Linked DNA regions of Homo sapiens: region 1 is linked to region 2. The links come from fine-mapping of genetic effects on gene expression. A gene starts in region 2. The other region holds a variant in brackets. All regions are shown on one strand. Distances are between the middles of the regions.

The links. PIP is the estimated chance that this variant, and not a neighbour inherited with it, causes the effect.
Region 1: its variant is fine-mapped to the expression of GSTM3 in sun-exposed skin (GTEx, PIP 0.96).

The regions. Positions count from the first base shown.
Region 1 is chr1:109,705,967-109,714,300 of GRCh38, forward strand. It overlaps GSTM5 (glutathione S-transferase mu 5), which reads left to right and starts at 6,285. Exons shown (of 8, transcript NM_000851.4): 1 at 6,285-6,382; 2 at 6,652-6,727; 3 at 7,153-7,217; 4 at 7,518-7,599; 5 at 7,695-7,795. The coding sequence starts at 6,347. The variant T/C (reference allele first, on the strand shown) is at 4,542.
Region 2 is chr1:109,736,441-109,744,774 of GRCh38, forward strand. GSTM3 (glutathione S-transferase mu 3) reads right to left here and starts at 4,598. Exons shown (of 9, transcript NM_000849.5): 1 at 4,513-4,598; 2 at 3,800-4,071; 3 at 3,393-3,468; 4 at 2,989-3,053; 5 at 1,845-1,926; 6 at 1,651-1,751; 7 at 1,216-1,311; 8 at 1,017-1,127; 9 at 1-729. The coding sequence starts at 3,847. The coding sequence ends at 631. RefSeq lists a silencer at 3,808-4,037.

The DNA of each region.
Region 1 (8,334 bases), 30 kb before region 2:
ATTTACTACCGAATTCTTTGCCTTTAATTGTCCCCACGGGGGCCACTGGCCCTTTACCTCAAGGTTTGGTGGGCCTGGTGTTAGGTAGGGCATCCACCTCTGCTAAAGGTATCATAGTTCATACTGGTCTCATTAATTCTGATTCCTCTGATGAGATTAAAATAATCGTGTCTGCCAAGGTTCCTGTTTCCATTCCGGCCAGTGAGTCAATTGCTCAACTACTTTTACTACCTAATATTGTTTTAAACAAAGGAGATAAGACAGGGGGCCCTGGGATGGGCTCTGGCGGTGAAAAAGCCGCTTATTGGATTAAAGTAATTTCTAAACAACAGCCCACCTGCACCATACATATTAAAGGAAAAAAGTTTGAGGGCCTAGTAGATACTGGGGCTGATGTTTCTATTATTTCCTCTAATTTATGGCCTTCTTCCTGGCTTAAACATCCCACTAACATGGGACTAGTAAGGGTTGGAAAAGCTGATGAAGTTCACCAAAGCACATTTATCTTGCCTTGCACTGGGCCTGATGGTCAAAAGGGAACAATTCAGCCTTATATCATGCCAATCCCCATTAATCTTTGGGGTAGATATTTGCTGGAACAATGGGGGGCTGAAATTAATATTCCACATAACTCTTCTCGTGCTCCCAGTCAACATATAATGGAAAACGTGGGGACTGTTCCTGGACTCAGTCTCGGTCCAAAACATGAAGGAATTACTAAATTCCTTTATGGTTTAAAAGCATAATTTAACCACTCCCCACTCCCAATTCCATTTAGCATTGTTTACTTTAAACTTTCTAAATGTTCCTAAAGACAATACTCTGACTGCAGCCGAACACCATTATACAGGCAAAAAATTCTCCCTAAATGAAAGCAAGCCAGTGTTATGGAAAAACTCCCAGACAAATACCTGGGAACCTGGAACAATTATAATGTGGGGAAGAGGGTATGCTTGTGTTTCACCAGGAGATCATCAATCCCCTGTCTGGGTGCCCACTAGAAGACTTTAACTTCGTGTGAATACTGACAATGAAAAACACAGGGAAGAGATGTCCACGTCAGAGACTGCCCTCATACCTGGTGAGATCTGTGCCAACTCCTCAAAAACTGGCACACCAAATCAAAATGGATCTCATTCAATCCTCCCTAATGGCAACAGAGACCCCTCTAACTAATCCCACTTCTCCTAATTACCTTTCTTTTTCTCCTTACAAACCTGAAAATCTCACCATTTCTATTAGCCTGAAAATAACATCCCTCTGTTCTTCTCTTCCTCCTTCAGCACTGGATCTCGCTTACAATAGGTTTTATTTAATAATTCTACTCCTTATACTTTCTGTCTCACCAGTTTCCCCTCACACTGATTTGCCTGCTACACAAAATTATTCTTATTGGGCTTATGTGCCTTTTCCTCCACTTATTCGACCTCTCACCTGGATGAATGCTCCTGCGGAAATCTACACTAACGATAGTGTGTAGATGCCTGGAGCTATAGATGACCATTGCCCTGCTCAACCAGGAGAAGAAGGCACTGCATTTAATGTTACTATGGGTTATAAATACCCTCCTCTGTGCCTCGGACATGCAACTCGTTGTATCCATCTAGAAACTCAAGTCTGGGCTGCTTATCTTCTGGAGAGATTAGCTACAGGAAAATGGGGACATTTGGTCTCCGGCCTCTCCCTTTGTCCTTTAAGACAAATGAAAAGGGGAGTAATAGGAGATACCCCATACTTTCAATATAAACCTGTAGGAAAACTATGTCCTAAAAATTTTGAGGGCCCATCTAAAACTTTAATTTGGGGAGATTGTGTTAACTCACATGCAGTAGTATTAAAAAATGACTCATATGCTTTAGTAATAGACTGGGCACCAAAGGGCTATTTAAAAAACACTTGCTCCTCTGGGGGAGGGGAATTCCTGGAGGCTACTTATTTTATTTCTTATTGGGAGGACGAGGATCATCATCCTACTTTGCATAGGTGGTTCGGCTCATTCTTTACCTTAAAATGGGAAGATAAGGACATTACCCTCCACCCCCAAGGCCTTGTATGATATTCCCCATTCTGAGCCCAGAACACCCAGAACTTTCGAAATTGGCTATTGTCATGTCTGGACTGCCAGTATCTGTGATTCTGAACCCCATGATAAATCCCCTTTGAACCTTTTTCCTCTTTTTGATGCCGATCCTCCTTTACGGGACTCCAATTGGCATTACGATAATTCTTATCGACCCAGGTATGCCCCTCTACTTCTTCAGCATCCCCAGGCACCTCGGTTTGCTTCTTTATGGTGGAGAACATCGGGCATTGCCACCGCCGCTCCTCTCCCTCAGTATCAACATAGATTCAAGCATTCTGCTTTGTTTACCTCCAACCTGACTATTCCTATACAGAGTTGTGTTAAGCTTCCTTACATGCTGTTAGTGGCAAATATCAAAATTTGGACAAACAATCAAACTGTCCAATGCATTGTCATTTATACACTTGTGTTGACTCCCGTTTTGACTCCAGGAAAAGTGTAATGTTGGTTGGAGCTCGAGAAGGAATCTGGATACTGTGTGCCGGACCAGCCAAAGAATCCTGTGTCAAAACCGAGAGAACGAATAAGCCTTCATCACCATGGCACATTTATATAAAAAGAAAGGGAGAGATGTTGCGGGAAGTCAGGGACCCCGAATGGAGGGACTGACTGGAGCCGCGGCAGAGGAACATAAATTGCAAATATTTCATTTTAATATGGACATTTATCAGTTCCCAAATTATTACTTTTTACATTTCTTACGCCTGTCTTACTTTAATCTCTTAATCCTGTTATCTTCATAAGCTGAGGATATATGTCACCTCAGGACCACTGTGATAATTGTGTTAACTGTACAAATTGATTGTAAAACATGTGTGTTTGCACAATATGAAATCAGTGCACCTTGAAGAAGAACAGAATAACAGTGATTTTTAGGCAACAAGAGAAGACAACCATAAGGTCTGACTGCGTGCAGGGTCAGGCAAAATAGAGCCATATTTTTCTTCTTGCAGGGAGCCTATAAATGGACATGGAAGTAGGGAAGATATTGCTAAATTCTTTTCCTAGCAAGGAATATTACTATTAATACTCTGGGAAAGGAATGCATTCCTGGGGGGAGGTCTATAAACGGCCGCTCTGGGAATGTCTGTCCTATGCAGTTGAGACAAGGACTGAAGTACACCCTGGTCTCCTGCAGTACCCTCAGGCTTACTAGGGTGGGGAAAAACCTGGCCCTGGCAAATCTGTGGTCAGACTGGTTCTCTGCTCTTGAACCCTGTGTTCTGTTGTTTAAGATGTTTATCAAGACAATACGTGCACTGCTGAACATAGACCCTTATCAGGAGTTCTACTTTTGCCCTTGTCCTGTTTCCTCAGAAGCATGTGATCTCTGTTCTGTTTTTTGCCCCTTAAAGCATGTGATCTTTGTACCTACCCCCCGTTCGTACACCCCCTCCCCTTTTGCAATCCTTAATAAAAGCTTGCTGGTTTTGAGGCTCGGGCCGGCATCACGGTCCTACTGATATGTGATGTCACCCCTGGCGGCCCAGCTGTAAAATTCCTCTCTTTGTACTCTTTCTCTTTATTTCTCAGCCAGCTGACACTTATGGAAAATAGAACCTATGTTGAAATACTGGGGGCAGTTTCCCCGATAGCCTTGCTGAGGAAATTAAATTTATGTTCAAGTGCTATTTCTTTATGGAACCAAGGAACAAGTATTTCAAACAATACTAATGTAACAGTACTGGTTCTATGTGTTTCAAAATTATTATTCTCATGAGTGTTAGCTTTCTTAAAAAATCGTTTTTATCAATTGGATCTAGACATCTTATCTTTCACAGCTCAAGACCCATTAACTCAAAATCATAAACTCTTAATGCATAATGAGAAATATAATGATTCCTAGGGCCAGGCACTTGTGTCTGTGCTGGTGCTATTGCCTCAATGCAGGAAAATCTATGTGAGAATTCACTGTGAGGCCAAAACTGCTTCCTAAACATGGATACCTGCCAGGTATCTGAGCTGGGAGTACTGCCCAGGTCTGGATGGGTGGGGAGTGTTTGCAACAAGGACTGTGCCTTGCCAGCCTCAGTGACACAGTGTCCAAGTGCCCCAACTTAGCAGCCACCTGCTGACCACCTGATTTCTGTGGCCTAATAGGGATGTGATGAAGTCTACCTGTTTACTCAACCCCAAACCACACATTATCCAGGTGGTTTGAAACTTTTTTGATATACTGGGTTCATCCTCTGGAGTCCTAACAATGTTTTAGCTAATTTACAAAAAAACAAAAACAAAAACAAAAAACAAAAAACTACTTTTTTTGCAGCACAACAGCCTGGTTTACATTGCAAAATGATTTCTCATTAAAGGTCTATCATCTATTTCCATATATCCATTATTATTTGTAATATCCTTTAAAAAAAGCAGTCAACCCCAGGCTAATCCATTGCACAACTCTTTTGAAAGTCTTCCTTCTACCTTGAAAGAAGAAAGTTGGCAGGTTGGACATTGTTCT[T/C]GCGGAGGTTGTACCATGGGTCACATATCACGGTGTGACTTCAAAGGCCACTGGAGCCACCGTCTCATACTGAAGAACACACATGGGTCAGGAGCCAGGTCCAGGTCCGGCATGGTGGATCTGGAGAGGGGAGAGTCCCTGCCTGTGATCCTGTGGGGAGCCCTCAGGCTCCTCTCTGGCCACCATCCTCTGACCTCCCTCCTCAGCAGGACAGGGTTCTGGCTTCTCTGAGGGACAGGTTCTGTGGCAGACCAGGTGTCACTAACACAGGCCTCCATAACAACTGTTTCAGTACTGACTGAGTGATGAAATTAAATATTAAAAGCTGAAAAAAGCCAGTACCTTTATACAGAGGCTGGATGTAACAAAAGCCCACCAAGAGTTTTGCTTAGGCCTTTCCTGGGCCTTAAAGCATGACAAAACAACGAAGGAATTCTTAACAGGACCTATTTAGAATTAAACAAGTTTTATTGTGAGTCTGAAGAAACTCCCCAGGCCTCCACAAACAAGTTTACTGGGCATCTGAAGGAACTCCCCAAACCTCCATGATTTAGCAGGAGACAAGATAAGGGCAATCATCCCCCGCACCTGGACCCATTTAGATTAAGTAAATAGACTGAGGCTCCAGAGTAAGGTCCTCAGGACCCAGACCTCAGTTACAGATTAAAGAAGTTAATCACTTATGTCTTTAGATGAATGCACACTTACTTGTAGACATATACCTTAGAAGGTATATATGCTCTGGAAAACTTTAATTTTGAGTTGGTCTGGTAGTAATTTCCAGGCCTTCTCCCTGTAACTGGTTGCAGAAATAAAACCTCTCTTCCTCCCCATTTGATCTGCATCTCGTTATTGGGCCTAGAGAAATAGCAGCCGGACCCTCAGTTTGGTCCGGGAAGTTCTTCCATCCTCCCTCGCCTGCTCTCTGTGGCCACTGCACTCACTGTTGCTGTTGCTGTTCCGGTCTCTGTGAGGTTCACCTAGTGGACTGGCTGGACATTTCTAGGGGGCACCTCAGATACCTCACCAACTTGCTGGATCTGATCCTTGGATTTCGATTCATAAATTGTGCCAAAATACGAAGTGGCTAATTTACATAGTACTTAGCCAGATGACCGAAGGACTCAGTATCCAAAGGCCCCTAACAGAAAACACAGACCACATTTCCTTTACTCTGGCCCTTTTCCTGGGGGTCCTTCCTATACCACTGACACTGTTCCTGTGTAGGCGGGGCTAGAGGGGAGACTAAGCCCTCGGAGTAGCTTTCGGATCAGAGGAAGTCCTGCTCTTACAGTGACAGGGGCTGAATTAAATTCCCAGGTTGGGACCACCACTTTTTAGTCTGACCCCTGCAGCCGGAGTCTCCCAGAGCCCTTGGGAACTCGGCAGCGGAGAGAAGGCTGAGGGATTCTGCGGGCAGGGAGGAGAAGGGAGAAGAGCTTTGCTCCGTTAGGATCTGGCTGGTGTCTCAAGCGCACAGCCAAGTCGCTGTGGACCTAGCAAGGGCTGGATGGACTCATGGAGCCTCAGGGCGGGTTGGGGAAGCTGGCGAGGCCGAGCCCCGCTTTGGGCTTCTGGGCGCCCTGACCTCGCTCCCGGAACCCTGGGGACTGGGAGGCGGGAGGGGGCTTATTGATTCCAGCCCCGGGCGCTCGCTCGGGGGCCTACAGAATGGCGTGTTTCGGGGTTGTGGCGGGCCGAGGGGCGGGGTCGCAGCAAGGCCCCGCCTGTCCCCTCCTGGGCCTCTCAAAGTCTGAGCCCCGCTCCGCTGATGCCTGTCTGCAGAATCCGCACCAACCAGCACCATGCCCATGACTCTGGGGTACTGGGACATCCGTGGGGTAAGCGAGGGTCCTCTGGTGGGTGGGACAGGGGGCGGAGGCGGGGATGTGTGGAGTAGCTGCAGGACTGGCTCTAGGGACCGTTCCTCTTCAGGGCTGCCCGCCTCAGAAGGGCCTGTGCATGACGCTGTGTGTGTGTTTGGGGGTGGGGGCGGGTAGAGGAGGCGACGGGTACGTGCAGTATAGACTAGGGGCTGGCCTGGTGCAGAGAAAGTCACCAAGTCAGGGACCCTCCATCTCTGACCCGAGCCGCGGGCCATCTCTCCCAGCTGGCCCACGCCATCCGCTTGCTCCTGGAATACACAGACTCAAGCTATGTGGAAAAGAAGTACACGCTGGGGGACGGTAATGGCACCCTCGTGTCCGGGCCCTGCCCACTCACGCTGAGTTGGCACCAAGCAACCCATGGTGGCCACCTGTGGCTGCCTCTGCAGGCCTCCCCTGCTGGAGCTGCAGGCTGTCCCTTCCCTGAGCTCCCGTGAGTGAGCCCTCTGGCCTTGCAAGGCAGAATGCTGGGGCGGGATGCTGGACACCCTGTCTAATTGGGTTGGGTGTCCCTCAGAGCTTCCCTAAACCCTGGAAGCCTTAGCCGTTGTGGGGTCCAGAGCCCTCAGTGGGATTCTTTCTCCCTGAACCCTGGGATGTGGGACTGAGTGGTCAGATTCTAGATCCACCTGTCTCAGGGATCTTGCCACTGGCTCCTTGGGAGGGTCCCCGGGAAGGAGGGCTGGGCTCTGGGGAGGTTTGTTTTCACTTCTTCCCCACCACAGCTCCTGACTATGACAGAAGCCAGTGGCTGAATGAAAAATTCAAGCTGGGCCTGGACTTTCCCAATGTAGGTGCAGGGGAAGGGGCGGTTTTGGGGGAAAGTGCGACGTGTCTCTGACTGCATCTCCTCTCCCCACCTTAGAGGTGTTAAGATCAGGAGTCTTCTGCCCAATTCCTCTCACTCTTGGCTGTCTACACAGCCCTTGCATGATGTTCTGTGTCCCAGCTCATTTATTAGTGTGACAGTATTTCTATCTCAGGCCTGCCATGAGCAGGCCCTGGTCTCCTCTCTGCCCTTGCATATGGGAAGGGGATGCTGGGGAGCCTGGTGGCCCAACTGAGCTTCCCCGGTTTCCCATCTATCCAGCTGCCCTACTTGATTGATGGGGCTCACAAGATCACCCAGAGCAATGCCATCCTGCGCTACATTGCCCGCAAGCACAACCTGTGTGAGTGTGGGTGGCTGCAATGTGCGGGGGGAAGGTGACCTCCTCCTTGGCTGGGCTGTGATGCTGAGATTGAGTCTGTGTTTTGTGGGTGGCAGGTGGGGAGACAGAAGAGGAGAAGATTCGTGTGGACATTTTGGAGAACCAGGTTATGGATAACCACATGGAGCTGGTCAGACTGTGCTATGACCCAGATTTTGTGAGTCCCACACCCCACTCCCAGTCACCCATTTCCCTGCCTTTTGGCCCAGACCAGGGAGGGACTTCCAAAGTCAGGTCTGTAGCAGACTCCGGCCAGCTGACTGGAGACGTCTATAACCTGGTTCTCCAAAATGTCCACACGAATCTTCTCCTCTTCTGAAGATTCTTGTGGACATTTTGGAGAACCAGACCACGGACAACTGGATGCAACTGGTCATGATCTGCTACCACCCAGAGTTTGTGAGTCTCCCCAGTGAGCTGCACCTGGCAGAGTTTGGATTTGGGGCCAGGACTCTTGCATTCCTGCACGCACTGGTCTTTTCTTAAGTCCTTGGTACCACTCATCCTCCAAGTGCTTTCCCATACTATCAGCAGTTATTCTCACGACTCCAATGTCATGTCAACAAAAGCAGAGGCAATTCCCACCAATCTTAGGACACGATCCAGGCATCCCACGGTGGAAATTCAATTCCTAGATGGTAAAATTTGTGTTCAGAATCTCCTTCATCTCCTCTGGCCTCTGGCCTCTGTCATGGG
Region 2 (8,334 bases):
TTTTACGTCTTTAAAGAAACTTCTCCTACCCCGTGGTCACAAAAATTCTTACATTTTCATCAATATTTCAACAGCTTTGTGTTTAATGTTGGGCCTTAAATTCCAGATTAATTTTAGTGAATAGTGTCAAGTGGGGCTCTATTATTTTTAATGAGTAAGCAATTGTCCCAACTCTATTGGCTAGCCCACCAGTCTGAAATACTGCCTTTATCACACTAAACTCCCATGTGTACACAGGACGGTTTCCGAACTCCGGTTAAGTCCATCAGTACCACAGTTTTACTTGTGTTATCCTCACCCAGTCTTCACAGGGACTCCAGTCCCATTTAACACACCTGCTCTCTCCAACTGTGCAATCTCGTTTTTTCTAGTACCCACTCTCAGGGCTTGGGCATGAACCTACAGCCCTTGAACTCAGTTGGGGAGTAGGGAAATGCCAGTATCGCAGCGATTCAATTCATATCTTGATGATTCTCCACATATCCTTTTTCCCTTTTAGCCTTTATACCCAAGAGAAACTCAGCTGGACACCAGTAACATAAGTGCTATTCATTGAAAAGAGCAAAGCAAGAGCGCTGACCCCTTACGGACAGGATGAAACAAAACAAGCTCTGCAAGTCTGCCTCCTGCTCAGCATACAGGCTTGTTGCCCCACTGGGCCATCTTGTTGTTGATGGGCATCTTGCAGAACTGATCAGACTGTAAGTAGGCAGCGATTTTCTCCAAAGCCTGAAAGGAAAATACACCAAATCTTATAACGACCCCAACCCAGTCCAACAGATGCATACCAGAACAGCAACATTCACGTGTTGCCTGCGTCTACCTCCTCCATTTTTTTGTAGACAGTGCCTCCAAGGTATAGAAGTTAGGCTCTTCCCAAGACTTAAAGGTCTAGAGGTGTCCAACCATTGATCCCATTAGGCAAAAGCCGGGGAAGAATCCTCCACTATGGGATCCTGCAGGTCCCAGGGGAGCCTGTGAGTGTTTTTATAAGAGAAAGGTGCAGGAAACGTCACCTCAAAACGGCACATGAAAGCCTTCAGGTTTGGGAACTCATCCAGGCACTTGGGGTCAAATATACGGTTCTGATCCAAGATATCATAGGTGAGAAAATCCACAAAGGTGAGCTAGAAGAAAAGCAATAAGATGCTTAGGTCTGAGGAGTAGTAGCCTGCAGAGATAGAGAAGTATCCTCTTCTTTTCCCTTCTTCCTACCTTTTCCCCGGCAAACCATGAGAATTTCCCCAGAAACATGGAGAATTGTTTCAGTTGTCCAGGTAGCTCTTCCAAGTACTGAGGCTTCAGTTTTTCCTGAGAGGAAAAAACAGAATGAGAATAGTGGTGATCATCTTTGTAGTTAATCAGGGCACAGGCCAGTGATGGACACTTAGTAGCCCCTTCTCTAGGTGGGTTCTCATTGCCTTCACTTGAGGATGGCAGGGTGGGGAAAGAGGAGTTTAGAAAGAAGAGGCACCAGCACCAGAATTACATGACAAAACAAACCAAAAAATATAAGTTCTGTTTCTTATTCTAACAATCTGGATTGGTGGGAAGGTAGCAGCAGCAGAATGGAACAGAGATAACCCTTGGGTTCCTAAATACCCCTTTTTCTGATACTCCATTCAGCAGATGTGTGCTAAGGAAACTCACGTGGTCAGAGCTGTAACAGAGCCTTATCAGTTGTGTGCGGAAATCCATTACTTGGTTCTCTATGATGTCCACTCGAATCTTTTCTTCTTCAGTCTCACCACCTGTAGGCCAAATGACAACAAATCACCCTTGGCATCATCCACTCTCAGACAAACTACCAGCCTGGGGTCCCTCACCAGCCCTACCCCACTCACACATGTTGTGCTTGCGAGCGATGTAGCGCAAGATGGCATTGCTCTGGGTGATCTTGTTCTTCCCATCCAGGAGGTAGGGCAGCTGAAAGGAAAAGGACAGGACAAATGAACAACCTGCCTCTCTCTTGATTCCCTACCTCTCTCTCCAGGGGAAAAGAACACTTGCAGGGCAGTGAACAAGAGTGAGAAGATGCTGTGTTAGGAGAAAAAAGAAAATAAGTAGAAGGTAGCAACTGGGTCCACAAGATTCTAGACAGGGGTTCTTAAATTGGTGTGTGTATGTGTGAGTGTATGTGCATGCCATGGACCTTTTCTCAGAATAAAGTTGTTAAATGCATGAAGCAAAATAGATAATTTACACAATCAAAAAATATTTTTAAAAATTCAAATAAGAGTAACATGTGCCTATTAGTGCATTAAATAGCAAGCAGATGTAATGACTAACATAATCTCAAAGTAAATAACATTATATGTATATATTTACTTACATGTATATAAATATCACTTAAAATATCTGCAACGCATGTTATAGAATATGAAACTACCTGATTTCAGGCTGGGCACAGTGGCTCATGCCTGTAATCCCAACACTTTGGAAGGCCGAGGTGGGAGGACTGTTTGAGCCCAGAAGTTCAGGATCAGCCTGGGTAACATGGCAAAACCCCGTCTCTTACAAAAATACAAAAATTAGCTGGGCATAGTGGTGTGTGCCTGTAGTCCCAGCTCCTTGGGAGGCTGAGGTGGGAGGACTGCTTGAGCCTGGGAGGTTGAGGCTGCAGTGAGCTGTGATTGCGCCACTGCACTCCAGCCTGAGCGACAGAGTGAGACACTGTCTCAAAACAAAAGAACAAGAAACACACAAAAAAGAAAATACCTGATTTCTACTAGTGACAAAGTGACAGACATGGCTAATAACCAATGTCACTTATTGTCTCTCTTCACAATAAAAGGAAATAACTTTTGCTAGTGGTTAATGGGAATGAAAATACATATCCATCCAGTTCAAGGACCCCTGAATTCTATTTATTCTATCCGGGTTAAGATCCCCTATTTTGCATCCTTCTGTACCAGGCAGGAGAGAGGCAAGGATGGATATACTTGAAGGCTTTCCCTTCTGCCCGCCACCTCTACTAAAGCCACTTACATTAGGAAAGTCCAGGTCTAGCTTGAATTTCACATCCAGCCATTGGCTTCGATCATAGTCAGGAGCTGTAAGAGACGGAATTAAGTGGGACCCAACCTCCTTAATACCCCACCTGACAAGAGCAAAAGATCTAAAGAAATGACTTGGTCCCAATACCTCAAATTCCCAGGCCCCAAAAGCATAACCATTGAGCCTCTGAGCCCTATTTGGTTAAGCATTAAGACGGGTTTGGGCTATGTTAAAAAGAGAACCCCCAGTTCCAGATAAAGGATGTGTCTCTATTCACCCAGATTGGGGCAAACGTCCCACCCGGCCTTGGCGCGACGCCACCACCCTCTGGGCGTAAGAAGACCAGGGCAGGTGGAGGGCCAGCTTGGCTGCACGGGCACGCGGAGCGGCATTACCTTCCCCGCACGTGTACCGTTTCTCCTCATAAGAGGTATCCGTGAACTCCAGGAGCAGGCGGATGGCGTGCGCCAGCTGGGGAAGACAGCGGTTCAGCGACTGCGCAGCTCCCACCCATTCCCAACCCCCGCCCGCTAACGTTCCCCGGCCCGGGGCTGCCGAGTCCCTGCGTCCTGCCGGGGCGGTGGTTAAGCGGCCCCTAGGCCCGGCTCCGGCGTGGTCTCCTCCGCCCCTCCCCACAGGGCCCGCGATCCCAGAGGCTGGGCAGGGGTCGACATCCGTGGCTCGGCAGCTCGAAAAGGCTCCCGCGTAGAGCTGCTCCTGCTGGAGATCGCGGACCCAGAGACCCGCCCTCTCCGCGTCAGTCTCTTTGACCGAGCGGCTCTACCGTTGAGACGGCACTCACCCCACGAATATCCCAGTACCCGAGAACCATAGACGACTCGCACGACATGGTGACGGGCTTCCGAGCCTTCGAGGACTAGGGAAACTGTGAGCGGGAGGGGCTTTATACCCGACATAAGGGGGCGGGGCCCACGCGCGGGCGCCCTGACTCCGCCTCCGCCCCGTTCTCCGTCCCTTGCCTCCGCGGCTCCACAGGGCCGTGCGCAGGCGCGACTAATGCCGGCGTTGGGGTTCAGGGCCTGGCGACCCCGAGGCGGGACCCGGGCAGGAGTGCTGCAGGAGAGCAAAGGACCCGAGGTTGAGGCTCCTCCCTTCCCCGCGGGTGGGAGCCAGACTTCATTCATTAATGGTGCCAGTGAAGACGCGAAAAGCACCACTAGCCAGGCAGTGGGGACCCTAGTTACCCAGGGAGAGCGAGATTCGCGCCGTTTTTACCGAGCCAGCCGGGGCTGGATGAAGGATAGGAAGACTGGGGCAAGGCCGGAGAGTCAGACCAGCCTCTGACCACACAGAGCAGAAGATTCCCCACAGACCAAGCTCCCCTCTCTGTCAGTCAAGGACCTCTGCAACCTGACCCCAACGTGCTTTTCCAGTCCTGTCTCTCCCTCAGCCCGTCACAACTTCATAAGCCAGCCCAACCCAACAATACTTGCTGTTCCTTCTACACACACTTGCATTTCCCACCTTGGAGTGTTTGCTCTGTGATCCTCCTACCTGCATCCTAATTTCCACAGCCTATCCTTCCTCAGCAGCCTTGCTGAAATGTCTGCCTATTCCTTGAAGCCTTCTCAGAACCAACCTCTATCCTGGCCAGAAGAGGTCTCTTATCTTGAATGTTTCCTACCTTTGTTTTATGGGCTTAAGTAATTTATGGATTCCTTATTATAATTTCCTCCTCCAATCCCTCCCACTTCCTAATGCTCACGCATTTAGGGAAATTAATCTTGCCTCTTTGTGTAGGATGGACTGGAGGAGGAAAGGTACTACCATTTTTCATTCACTCATTCATCTGTCCAACAATGTTTAACATGCCTGTTATGGACAGGCACTGTTTTAGGTGCTGGGGATACAGAACTGAACTCAACAGACAAAATCCCTGCCCTCAGGAAGTTTACATTCTAATGGGGAAGAAATAAACTAATATATAGTAAATAGCTAGTAAGTCAGGTGGTGATACACATCCTATGGAGAGAAATAAAATCGAGAAGAGAGATAGGGGGTCTCAGGGTGGGAACTGGGGGAGTCCCAGTAGGAAGGGGATTTATGTTTTTAAAGGTTATGTTCATAGAAGGCCTCATGGAGAAGTTAATCTTTAAACAAAGACCTGAAGGAGGTGAGAGATCAAGCCACTCTGCTGTGGGGGCCACCATGGGCTGATATAAATATAAAACAGAATAATTGCTGTTCCTTTTACAAGCATGTTTGCTCTGCTCCTGCCTGCACCCTAATGTCCATGGCCTAGCCTTCCTCAAGTAGCCGTGCTCAAATGCTCACTTCTTCCTTGAAGCCTTCTCAGAATCACCCTCTATCCTGGCCAGAAGAGTTCTCTCCCTCTCTTATCTCGAATCACTTCCTACCTGCAGGAGGCAGAGAGAACTCCAGGAAAAGGGAAACAGCAAGTACAGGAGTGATCACTCTGTGTTTGAAACCAGAGACTAGATGAGATCACCATGGGAGCACGAGTAGCAGAGATGAGGTCTAAGGGTTTGAGGTGCTCTGGCATATCAACATGTAAAGGTTAGGGAAAAATGAGAGCAAACCAGCAAAGGAGTCTGAAAAGGAGTGGCCAGGGAGGTAGGAGGAAAACAAAAGGTCCCAGAAGCCATGTGAAGATGTTTAAAGGGAGAAGTGATCAACTATGTCAAGTGTGGCTGATCAAGTAAGATGAAGATGGAGAATCAATGGTTGAATTTAGGAAAGTAGGGGTTTTGACCTTGACAGAGCAAGAGACCTGCCCGAGGCCCCTATAGTCATGGGAAGAACTAAGCTTCTGAATTTCGGCAGGGCCCATGCAAATGAAAAGGGGCACAGATTTGCAACAGGGTCAACTCGGGAGACATAGGATTCTAGTTGAATGTGGAGGAGTGACAGAGGAAGGAGTCCGGAGCTGCTCTGAGGGTTCTGGCCAGGCCTCTGCAGCACAGCTCTCAGGGCAGTCTGAGAGCCTAGATCCCCTAGCTCAGGTGTGGGAAATCACATTTGCCCATCAGTTCAACTGAAGCAAGGTTGGGACTTTTTAAAAGGGCATTTTGCTAAACAGAAGAAAGGAAGAGTACAAACCACATGGACAGGTGAAATTTATAATGCCTGTGTCTCTCCTCCCAAGAAAGCAAAAGGCCAGTCACAAATTCACCTGAGGTATAAGATTAACATTTATTGAGCACCTATCATATGCCAGGCAATATCTAAGTGTTTACGTATGTTAGCTAATTTATTCCAATTTAAGCTTCACAACAACTTTAGGAAGTAGGTGTTATGCCCATTTTCTTTTCTTTTTCTTTTTTTTTTTTTGCAGTTTTTGCATTACTTTCTTTTTTTTAAATTTTATTATTATTACACTTTAAGTTTCAGGGTATATGTGCACAATGTGCAGGTTTGTTACATATGTATACATGTGCCATGTTGGTGTGCTGCACCCATTAACTCCTCATTTAACACTAGGTATATCTCCTAATGCTATCCCTCCCCCCTCCCCCCACCCCACAACAGTCCCTGGAGTGTGATGTTCCCCTTCCTGTGTCCATGTGTTCTCATTGTTCAGTTCCCACCTATGAGTGAGAACATGCGGTGTTTGGTTTTTTGTCCTTGCGATAGTTTGCTGAGAATGATGGTTTCCAGTTTCATCCATGTCCCTACAAAGGACATGAACTCATCATTTTTTATGGCTGGATAGTATTCCATGGTGTATATGTGCCATGTTTTCTTAATCCAGTCTATCGTTGTTGGACATTTGGGTTGGTTCCAAGTCTTTGCTATTGTGAATAGTGCCGCAATAAACATACGTGTGCATGTGTCTTTATAGCAGCATGATTTATAATCCTTTGGGTATATACCCAGTAATGGGATGGCTGGGTCAAATGGTATTTCTAGTTCTAGATCCCTGAGGAATCGCCACACTGACTTCCACAATGTTGAACTAGTTTACAGTCCCACCAAAAGTGTAAAAGTGTTCCTATTTCTCCACATCCTCTCCAGCACCTCGTTTCCTGACTTTTTAATGATTGCCATTCTAACTGGTGTGAGATGGTAACTCATTGTGGTTTTGATTTGCATTTCTCTGATGGCCAGTGATGGTGAGCATTTTTTCATGTGTTTTTTGGCTGCATAAATGTCTTCTTTTGAGAAGTGTCTGTTCATATCCTTTGCCCACTTTTTGATGGGGTTGTTTGTTTTTTTCTTGTAAATTTGTTTGAGTTCATTGTAGATTCTGGATATTAGCCCTTTGTCAGATGAGTAGGTTGTGAAAATTTTCTCCCATTTTGTAGGTTGCGTGTTCACTCTGATGGTAGTTTCTTTTGCTGTGGAGAAGCTCTTTAGTTTAATTAGATCCCATTTGTCAATTTTGGCTTTTGTTGCCATTGCTTTTGGTGTTTTAGACATGAAGTCTTTGCCCATGCCTATGTCCAGAATGGTATTGCCTAGGTTTTCTTCTAGGGTTTTTATGGTTTTAGGTCTAACATGTAAGTCTTTAATCCATCTTGAATTAATTTTTGTATAAGGTGTAAGGAAGGGATCCAGTTTCAGCTTTCTACATATGGCTAGCCAGTTTTCCCAGTACCATTTATTAAATAGGGAATCCTTTCCCCATTGCTTGTTTTTGTCAGGTTTGTCAAAGATCAGATGGTTGTACATATGTGGCATTATTTCTGAGGGCTCTGTTCTGTTCCATTGATCTATATCTCTGTTTTGGTACCAGTACCATGCTGCTTTGGTTACTGTAGCCTTGTAGTATAGTTTGAAGTCAGGTAGCATGATGCCTCTGGCGTTGTTCTTTTGGCTTAGGATTGACTTGGCAATGCGGGCTCTTTTTTGGTTCCATATGAACTTTAAAGTAGTTTTTTCCAATTCTGTGAAGAAAGTCATTGGTAGCTTGATGGGGATGGCATTGAATCTGTAAATTACCTTGGGCAGTATGGCCATTTTCATGATATTGATTCTTCCTACCCATGAGCATGGAATGTTCTTCCATTTGTTTGTATCCTCTTTTATTTCCTTGAGCAGTGGTTTGTAGTTCTCCTTGAAGAGGTCCTTCACATCCCTTGTAAGTTGGATTCCTAGGTATTTTATTCTCTTTGAAGCAATTGTGAATGGGAGTTCACTCATGATTTGGCTCTCTGTTTGTCTGTTATTGGTGTATAAGAATGCTTGTGATTTTTGTACATTGATGTTGTATCCTGAGACTTTGCTGAAGTTGCTTATCAGCTTAAGGAGATTTTGGGCTGAGACAATGGGGTTTTCTAGATATACAATCATGTCATCTGCAAACAGGGACAATTTGACTTCCTCTTTTCCTAATTGAATACCCTTCATTTCCTT